Regions from separate parts of the Homo sapiens genome. Here region 1 is linked to region 2. Evidence: fine-mapped expression QTL. Tissue or cell type: whole blood. Region 2 holds a variant in brackets; the other region holds the start of a gene. All regions are shown on one strand. Distances are from middle to middle. Region 1 holds the start of MIR646HG (MIR646 host gene). Region 2 overlaps MIR646HG (MIR646 host gene).

Evidence for each region.
Region 1: it holds the start of MIR646HG, and the variant in region 2 is fine-mapped to the expression of MIR646HG in whole blood (INTERVAL, PIP 0.94).

The regions. Positions count from the first base shown.
Region 1 is chr20:60,135,414-60,140,801 of GRCh38, forward strand. It overlaps MIR646HG (MIR646 host gene), which reads left to right and starts at 3,079. Exons shown (of 5, transcript NR_046099.1): 1 at 3,079-3,231.
Region 2 is chr20:60,230,777-60,236,164 of GRCh38, forward strand. All of the region lies in intron 3 of MIR646HG (MIR646 host gene), which reads left to right. Among named protein-coding and RNA genes, the nearest start is that of MIR646, 75 kb to the right of the region's middle. The variant T/G (reference allele first, on the strand shown) is at 3,338.

The sequences.
Region 1 (5,388 bases), 95 kb before region 2:
TCCGGGCCCACCTTTGTTTTGTACTGAAGGCTGCATCTCCCCAGTTTGCAAACTGCTTGTGCAAATAGAGTCTCTGTTAACCTAATGCTTCTTTCTCAGGTGTTTGGTTAACACTTGTACATGGTAGGCATTCTGTCTATATTTGTTGGGCAGATGTGTGCGTCGAAGTGGTTAAACTTTCCCAGCCAGAGTGGGCATCTCCTCTGGGGTAAGGAGTTGGTGACATGCAGGTACCTGAGGCCCTGCCATGGGTGCATGGGCTGTGATTGTCCATAGACCACGTTAACTTAAACTTCTGGTCTAACACATAGAGTGGGCATCTTCCTAGGAAACCCTGGAAAAGCAGCAGATAGGACTGGCTCTCAGCAGTGACGAAAAGCAATAAGAGGACAAAATGTGGTACTTTACACAATGGAGTACTATTCAGCCATAAAAAAGAATAAGAACCTGTCATTTGCAACAACAGGGATGGAATTGGAGGTCATCATCTTAAGTGAAATAAACCAGGCACAGAAAGACAAACATCACATGTTCTCACTTATTTGTGGGATCCAAAAATCCAAACAATTGAACTCATGGAGATAGAGGGTAGAAGGATGGATACTAGAGGCTGGGAAGTGTTGCGGGGGTGAGGAGGACGGACATGGGGATGAATAAGACCTAGTGTTTGATAGTACAATAGGGTGAGTAGAGTCAACGATAATTTAATTGTACATTTAAAAATAGCTAAGAATATAATTGGATTGTTTGTAACACAAAGGACAAATGCTTGAGGAGATGGATACTCCATTTTCCATAGTGTGATTATGGTGCATTGCATGCCTGTATCAAAACATCTCATGTTCCCCATAAATATATACACCTACTGTGTACCCATAAAAATGTAAAAAAATGATTAAAAGTCTAGATATAATTTAAAAGAGGAAACTGTCTTTGTGTGGAGGCCAGCTGAAGACAGATACTGCATCAGGCACTTGGCAGCCTGGTTTCCAGTAGCTTCTCAACCCAGTGGAGTAGACTCTATGGCCCCATTTTGCAGATGAAGAATGGAGGTGCAGAGAAATCACAGCTCTAGCTTTGTCAGGAGGACCATAGAGGTCCAGGGGCTGGAGGTCTGAATATTTAATAGAGGGATTTGAATAACCATGGAAGTTAGCCTGGAGAGAGATTTAGGAGGCAGATAAGCCTAGTGTTCACTGTGGGGGCAGATGCCTTCCCCATCTGTGCAGACGATTGGCCCAAGTGGCCATGATGACATGGCTCCTACCTACTTCCTAATGGACCTCAGAGAATTAAACAGCGAGGACAACAGCGAGTGTTGTCTCTCAGACCCTTGGCTTTTTCAGGACTGCCTGACCTTTCTTTGTCCTTATTTGGCTTCAAGTCAAGTCAGCTCAACCCTGATTGAGCACCGGCAATGAGTCATGTCTGTGAAGGCGACACAGCCCCTGTCCTTGAGGAGCTTCGAGTCCAGTGACTGTCACTTCAGTGGAAGTTGGGCTGGACACAGTCACATGTGTATGCCAGACATGAGGCTTTGTTCTCATTACAATAATTGCCCTGCATTATTCTAGCAATTAAGCTTCTCCACGTGTGTGGATGCATGTTCCCAATTTTTTCTGGCCTCTACCGAACACAATGTTAATATTTGAGAGCAGTCCTAAAAAATTAAATAATTATACAAACTGAATTAGGATAGCATAATATTACCAATCAGAGTAATGTGGCTTTGTAATCCAGTGTGATGTCATATGAATCTACAAATTAGGAAGCATGTCAGAGGAGGAAACCACATCCTTTATTGCTTTGCCTTAAATAGCTTAAAACTAATCTTTTCCATGAGCCAACAGCTATCTCTCATGTTTAATAATGCTCCTCCCTGCCCAGATGAAGCTAACTAAATGATGTTGCCCCCTGCACCTGCAAATGCCTGGTGCCAGGGCAGGGACACAGGGAATGGCAGAAGGGGAGACCAGATGTTGGCTGAGGCATTGATTTATGGGCATGACCTTCCATGTGCCCCGAGGATGGCTGAGACCAGGGTTTGATGAATGCAGTGCTCTGTGTGAGAAGTTCTAAGGTGACAAGCAAAGATTCTATCCTCTGGAGGGGCAAGCCCTATTATTAGGTTGGTGCAAAAGTAATCGCAGTTTATGCAGTTGTAATGGCAAAAACAGAAATTACTTTTGCACCAACCTAATACCAGACAGAGGAGGTGCAAGTGCATGCCACCAGGGCAGGTGCAGGTGATGGGGGCAGAGAAAACTCAGATGTCTCCAATCTGTGCAGAGTAGGGAAACAGAAAAAGCTAAGTGAGGAAAGTGAGATTGCTATCACACAGATGCATGTCTTAGGTTTTCTGATTCCATTCCTCATGAATTTCATTAAGTAATCAAAGTGCTAAGCATGAAATGTGGGTATGCTGTCACCAGGTGGCAGCAGCATCCACTCTCCAAAATGCATTTTGTTCAAACCTAGTATGTGCTGGGTATTCTGAGCACATAGCAGAGACTAAGGCAAAGAGTCCCTGGCACTGTGGAGCTTAGAGGCTAATGAGGTGGCAGGTGCTTACACTTTAGAAACCGTTGTGAGGAATAGCTAGTGGTAGTTAAATGATACAGTGATAGTTAACAGAGAGGAAAGCTTTTCTCTCACTCCAAGCTATATTTTTATTATCACTATTAATATAAATAGAAAATAAATATTAAAATAGTTATTAAATAAGCAAAAGATAATGTTGCATTTAGTTATACGATTAAGTAGAGGTTTTCAAATATTTTTTAGCTTTGTGCAACCGAAATTATATGAGGAAGCAAAAACCACAAATACAGAAAATAAGAACTTTTCTGTTTGAACAGAAACGAGGACACTGGGGAGGCCCTTCCAATGCAGGCCAGACTTTTAGGGGCTCGACAGAACACAGCTGGAGAAACATCCACACCACACGCGGTTTCACCTGCCACACGGCAGCCCGGGTGCCCGGATCACTGTGTGTGGAGACTCAGGCTCACCGGCAAACCTCTTCCGGTTCCGGTCAGGGTGCTGCCTCCCTATCCACTGGGAGTCCTTTTGCGTTTCAGATGCTCCCAGGCTCTCCCGCAGTTTAAAGACTTAACTCAGCGGCTTTCAGGGCCTGTGGTTGAGGGACTCCGAAAGAACTGTTGCTGGTGGACCGGTTCAGGGTCTTGACTTCGCCACACAAAAGAACTTGAGAGCACGTCCAAAGTAAAGGTAAGCAAGGGAGTTGATCGCACAGCGAAAGCGCACTCTGCCAGCGGATCGGAGCGGCCGCTCAAAGGCGAGGCAGTGCTGGCCGACACTGGGGAAACCCCCTTTATGGGGGTCTTACATGATTATTCATGAAGGGCTGGGAAGGGGTGTTGCCGTGAAGCATGTTCTGGGCTGTCTCCTGGTGGCACATGTGCTGTGGTTGTGCATGCTAGTACACACATCGCATGTCTCGTTAGCATCGTAAATCTCCACCCAGTTCTTTAGTATTCTAATGAGCGCAGGTCAGCCCAAGGACACTCATCTTGGGTTTCTGCACTTGGATGAATTCGCGGATTTTTCCTTCGCTCTTTGACCTCCTCGCTAAAGGATGGTCTAACCACGAGCCTGGGATGCGGCTTGTGCACCGCAGGTGGCTTGTTCTCGCCATCTATTTAGCAAGTTTGCTCTCCTTTAAGTGAGGCTGTGACCACCCTCTCTGACCTACCTCAGAACCTGTTGCTTAGCTTCAGAAATCCAGCCTGGTGCTGGGCTGAGGTCAGCCTGAGGTCAAGCCATGCCCCTGAGACTTAACTGCCCTTGGATACCAATTTTCAGCAACAGAAAAGAATGAAAATAAAGTTCACATGAGGGCTAGTGCTGCTGGCAATGAGAAGGTCCTGTGACTACTTTTATTACCACTTCAACGATAAGGAGGTGACCTTTCATTCTCATTTCTCTCTCTCTAATATTTTGCATTCTCCAACTGTTATCTGTAAGAACATCTTAGCGCATTTGAAAAGCAGGGAAAATATGTAATAAAAACCACAACCAACCACACCATCTTAATGATAGCACTATTATTTTGTAATTCCTTCCAGTATCTTTGCCCAAGGTTTATTACTTGTTGAGTATTTGCAATTGTCCTCAGTAAAATTCTGAGACATGATTTTTAATTTAACATACCTTAAGATTTTTGTTTGCAGGTGGCTGAATTTCTTCAGAAAAATTATTTTAAGGGCTACTCAACACTGAGCAGTTAGTATTCATTCAGGTGGCCATTCTCTGATGCCTGTATTGCTTCCAGCTGTTGGGAAATGAACCCAGTGGAGAATATTGTTTTTCTTTTGCTAACAACAACATCCGTTAGGACAGATTTCCACATGTCTGATTGCTGGGCCGATGACACAAACATCGACAATAGCGCTTCACGCGTGTTGACTGATGATTTCCAAAAGCTTATCTTCCCAGTAGGCAGTTTGCCAGATGCTTCCAGAAATAGATGAGAATGCCAATTTCATCACACTGTTGCCAGCACTAGGTATGTCCACTACATTTTAATGCTAGTGTAATAGGCAAAGGGGACCTGCTGTCTGTTTCACCATTCATTTCTTTGCATGGTTGTCAGGTGGGACATTGCATTCTCCTGGAGAGGCCAGATCACTATGTCTCCCAGGAGGCCCTAGCAGAAGCTGCTCTGGTGTCCAGCTCCTGTGTGAAGCCTCCCTGGTCCCTGACTCTTGGAACAGACTTCTTTTCTGCCCTTTAAACACCCCTAACATCATGCGTGGTCCTTTGCTATGACACAGTTGTTCCCCATTCTGCATCGTCATGAGGCTGTCTACACCCTCTCTCTCTCCTGGGCAGGGCTCCGGCTCTGCAGGGGATGGGGACGTGTGTTACTCTGTTAGTCCCCTGCCTTGTCCAGCACAGCACTGTACATGCCACAGAGGCCCCACAGAGCTTGATCAAAAACTAACAATGATTAAACCAAAATTACGAATGGACAAAAAATTTCCATCAAGAAACCTCAACATTTTAATGTTCATGAGGGGGGAATGTAGGGTAAATGCACCTGATAGTAATAAGCATACCCTTAGAATGACCCTGTATGGCAGATGCGCCTAAATGTGTGTTCTGTGCTAGGGAATCCAGGAGTGGCCAACCCGGAGATTGATTCTGTGTCTATGATAAACATCTGAGCCCCTGGCCTGTTCTGTGGAACGTGGGCCGTTCACGGGATTGAGGCCCTGAGTTTGGGATTGGATGAAGGTTGCCAGGGCGAGGTTACCAGGAGGGTGTTAAGTGAAAATGGTATGTACATGACATGCTGTTCAGAAGAGGTTACAGTTTTCCTGCCCGGCCCGCCACCACTGGAGCATTTCTGTACATAAGGTGATT
Region 2 (5,388 bases):
TTTATTTGTATCCTCAATTTTGAAAAATTCAAAATGATTTCATTTTGAAGATTGCCTTTCTTCCATCTCTGTTATCTTCTCCTGTAACTTGTTTTGACTATACATTGGACTTCTCATTCTGTTGTTTATGTTTTGAAATTCTTCTGTTTATGTTTTGAAATTCAACTGAGGGCTATTTTGCCCCCCAGGAGACATTTTGTAATGTCTGGAGACATTTTTGGTTATCCTCACCAAAAATGGAGAGGGTGCTAATGACAACTAGTGGGTGCAGGCTGAGCACTGCTGAACATCCTACAATGCCTAGGATACCCCTCCCCCCAACCACACACACCACCCAAAGAGTGACCTGCCGTGGCATGTCAATTGTGCAAGGCTGAGCAGCCCTGCTCTAGACCAGAAGCCCACTGAGGACAGGGACTTGGTCATACTGGTGCAACTCTGTATCCTCTTTGCCCATTTTACTGCTTGGTAACTAGTAGTTACTCAGTAAATTTTGCAATGTATCAAACAAGCATTAACCTTCAAAGCCATTATTGCCAATGTGACAGGTTGAATATAGTATCTTGTTTTAATTTTTATTTACTGAATTACTGGAGAGGCAAAGGTTTCTGGTTTTTACATGTTTATTGATCATGATCACCTATATTTCTTCTTTTGTGAACCAACCCTTTTTTCCTTTGCTTACATGAATGTACTAATGCCTATTCAACTCTCTGTTAATATAGTTGGGGTTATGAATAGTAATGAGATTATTTGAGGAAAAAAACCCATGGATAGTATATAACACTGGACAAATAGAGACCTTATTATCATTTTATGCTGCCCAAGCAGCCTGCCCTTAGGAAAAAGTCCAAGGTGCTTTATACAGGCTGCTCACTGCACAAGAGGGCAAGGGGAGCGCCAAAATCCACCCAGCACTCTGCCCTCTCAGATGCCAAACGGTCACCAGGTTGGTGTGCCTGGAGCAGAGCCTCCTATCTCTGTTTGCATTTGCCCTTCAACGGTGTGATAGCTTGAGCATATCTTGGTACTTTTCAAAATGCATTCATACATGTGGTTTATTTTGGTCCTTACATAACCCTGTAAGAATGCTTGGGGTTGCTCTTTCTGGCAGGTGAGGATCCAAGCTGGTTGCACCTCAGAGACGCTGGCAGTTTCAGAGGGCAGATACTTGGATGCTGCTTCTGCACCCCTGCACTGTGTCTCTTCCCAAGGGCCTAGCATTAAAGGAGTCTCGGGGGGAACCTCTGCTGGGTGAGCCTCCTTTCAGCACGCAGAACCTAAGCTTCACATGGACCGATGGGACTGCATTTGTGAAAGGAGAGGACCTTTATTCTCAAAGAGATCAACCTCGCCTGAATGTAAGCAGGTCTTGGGGAACTCCTGTGGTTCTCTCTTTTCAAGGTTTTCCATGAGACACAGTCCAGCAACACAAGAGGTAACCATATCTACATGACCCTCGGAACCTTTGGGAGTGATGGATGCCTAAGAATCTCATGAAAACTGTGGACCAGGAAAATATACCTGCTTTCAGGGGCTTCAGGGTCCCTGGAGAGTCTGTTCAGGCCTCTCTGGGCTCCAGGAGTCCTTGGTTAAAAGCTGCAACTTATACAAAATTTGATTTTCATGGTCATGTCAAGGGATGCCAGAAATCAACGTAAAATTACCCAGGTGGCTTGAGTGCCTGCAGATACCAAGTTCTGTGCTCTTCCCACTTCTGCATCTTTGCATCTTTGCACATGCTGTGCCTTTCAAGGGAAATGCACCTGCCTGTTTTGAAGACTCGTATTGACAGCTCAGATGTCACTGTCTCTATCACGGATCTCCCTGGGGGCAGGGTTGAGCATCACTTTCCAATTCCCACAGCCCTTCCTTCACATCCTTTTCACTGTACTCAGAGTTCTAGTTATTTGCTTATATATTTGTTTTTCCAAGTAGACCGTGAGATGCTTACTAGCAGGAATCATGTCTTAGTTTTCTTGACTTGCCTTTGTTAGCCCTGTTTGCAGCCTGGAATATAGTTACATAACAAGTGTTGCAAAAATGGCAAAGTGCAATAAAGCATGGGGTTTTCATCAATTAAAAGGGTGTAGGAGATAGGAGATTCGTACAAGTGACCCTTATGTCTACGTATTGGGACAAGATTATATGTACCTGTTGGGCAGGTATCCAGTGCCTAGTCAGCACAGATGATTTGTGACTCTTCTTAAAAAAATCATTTCCTCCAAATACTGTAGACTTCTCTCAAATCAAACTCTACAAACTCTAATTCAAGAAGCACCAGCCAACCTGTTCCCTGACAGATGGGTGTGGCTTGAGCTTGGGCAATGTCAGCTTCTGTAGGCGCCCACATGGGACAAATGGCCCATGTCTGGGACAGTGCCCAGCATCTGGAGCTATGTTGGCCCTTTGAAGATTCATCTCAATGTCCCTGAACTGCTGGGGAGGAAACAGCAATGGTGTTAAGTTGTCTGGTATGAATTACTGCTGCAAATAAATCTGACAAACCAACGGTCATGGTGAGAAGAATTGCCTCAGACACACACTGTCAGCCTGCTGGGTTAACCTCCATCTTTAAGTGGGAGGAAAAACAAGCATAACTATCTCTAAGAACAGAAGGAAAAAATCCTTCACTGGAGGTCTCTGTCCAAACGCTATGACTCAATGGTTCTATCCAGACTTATCACCCTGGGGAACCTGGAGAGATCCATTTCCTGTGAGAGAGAAAGAGAACTGAATTCCAGCCATTCCTTCCCCACCACCTCCTTCTCTTCTTCCTTACTGGCACCATTCATCTATATGATAGTGTAGCCTTTTCTTGCTCATCTTTCTTTCCCATGCCATACAATATTCTCTAAAACATTTGTTCATAGCTGCATAGCATGCCTTCAAATGGTGGTGCCCTAATTTGGATACCACTCCTTTATTCTTGGGCTCCTAAGTTTTTTTCTCAATATTCACCATTGTAACTATCACATCTCTGACATCCTTGTTCTTAATTTGCCTTCATCTGAGATTATTTTTCGGGATACTTTCCTGCAAGTTTGCTATATAAGTAACATCAAATTACTCTCCATGGTGAAATCTACTAATTTATGCTCCCTGGCCCGATGGGTTTTCCATTCCACCTTTCCTTGATCACCAAACATCATTACAGCTTTCAAAATATCTCCCAAGCTTCTAAGTGAGAAATGGAATGTTGCTATAGAATTCTTTCCATTTCTGGTAACTTCAAACATTTGTATCTTCTTTCGTGATTACCTAATCACATCTTTTAACCATCTTTTTATTGAGGTGCTTCTCACTTTCTTATTTAGAAGATCTCTTTGGGTATTAA[T/G]AATATTATGCACATATAATGCAGATAGTTTCTCCAAGTTATTACTTCCCATTTGACCCTGCAATCACTCATACTCATGGATTCTATTTTGGTGCAAGCCGCCAGTAGGGATCCAACTTTGTTTTATTATAAATGATCTCACATCTGTTGAATTAACCACTTCGTGTTAATTTTAAAAATAATTTTACTATTATTTTAACTGACATATTATAATTATATACAGTTGTGGAGTACAATTTGATGTTTGGGTATACGTATACAACATAGGCTGATTCAATCAACCAAATTAACATACCCGTCACCTTGTGCCATTCATTTTTAATGTCATTCTTATCACACACAATTCATGGGTTTGCTTCTAAGTTTTGAATCTGTCCTGGTGATATTTGTGATTATTTCTGGATAATAAGAGACTATTTTAACTTACTGTTCATATTTTGTTAAGACAATCCACCTCTGCGCTTCCCCTCCCTCCCTTTCTCCTTCTCTTGTTTTATCCCTCCTTCCCTTTCTCTCTCTCTCTCTCATAACTTTTTGGCTGACTTTATCCACTTTTTCATCTTGAAAAACTTTAAAATCATATTGTTAAGATTCAAAAAGCCTTACATAAGAACTTTCATTGGAATTTCACTAAATTTAAAGTTTGATATTTTTACGACATCAGACCTTCTCACTTAAGACTATGATGCCCTCTCCATTTCTTCATTGTCTTTTATATTTCTCAGTACAGTGCTATAATATTTTTATGAAGTCCTGTACGTTTCTTTTTGAGATTAGCCTGAGGTATGTTACGTTTTTGTGGCCATTATCCCTGGAATCTTTATTTTATTTTTTTAACTGGTTATTGTGGGTAAAGACACGCATTGATTTTCTATTTATTAATAGGTGATTTAATGAGCCCTTGTTACGTATCTCAGTAGCTCTTCTGTTTTCCAGGTAGACTTTTTTCTGTATGGTAGTAATAATCATCATCTCTATTTTTCTAACAGATCATTTTAGGATGCTTAATTACTTTTGATAGAACAATGACAAATACAAAGCTTATGGGGATTCTTACCTTTATATAGACAATAATGGTATGCTTCAAGTGGTACTGCCTAAAGATAGATAGTCTTTACCATGACAGCAACTTTCTTCTGATTTGAGTTTATTAGGAAAATGTGTCAGAAAAGAATGTTGAATATTATCAGATGCCTTTCTATGCCTACATCCATGTAGAAGGTGATGACAGGATTTTCCCATGTAACCTCTAATAAGATGCATTATTCTAGTTATATAAGTACTTCTGTCAGTATTCCTTTTATCTTTAACTTTTCTTTATCACTTTATGCTGGAGTGTCTTTTAGACATATATAATTGGATATATATGTACCTGTAGGAGATATTTTATCATTTGATAGAAAGTTTAACACATTTACATTTTTGTTGCAATGGATATGATATACTTGATCTTCTTCTTGTCATTCTATTTCCGTATTCTGTATTTATGCCTCTTTTTTTCTTTGCTGTATGGATTATATTGCCTTTAATCATTTCTTAGTAATCTTGAAGACATATGTCCATTTTTATGGCCATGAATAGTTACCTTTAAGTGTTAAGAAAACACCTAAACTTCTGTTTATCTGTAGTTATCAGTATAAAGAAGAATAAATATCCATTGTATCCCCTTCACATAATACAAGGGACACACAGTTAAGAATGTTTTGGCTAAACAAACAAACAACAACAACAACAAAAACAAAGCTGTGCTCAATGTATCTTAAATAATTAAAGGCTTATTTCTCTAAAATGACAAGAAATCTGAACATAGTCAGTTCTTGGCATTGGTTTAGTAGATCAACAATATAAGAGTCAACATCTTTGCAAATCTCTTCCTCGTGGTAATAAAATGGCTGCTCCAGTTCCAGACATCATATTGACATTCAAGGCAGTAAGAATAAGGGAAGATCTGTGCCAGCCATCTCTATCCCAGGACCCAATACCTAGAAGACTTCACTTAACATCTCATTGGCCAGAACTCTGGCACATGCCCCTCCCCACAAACACAGAGG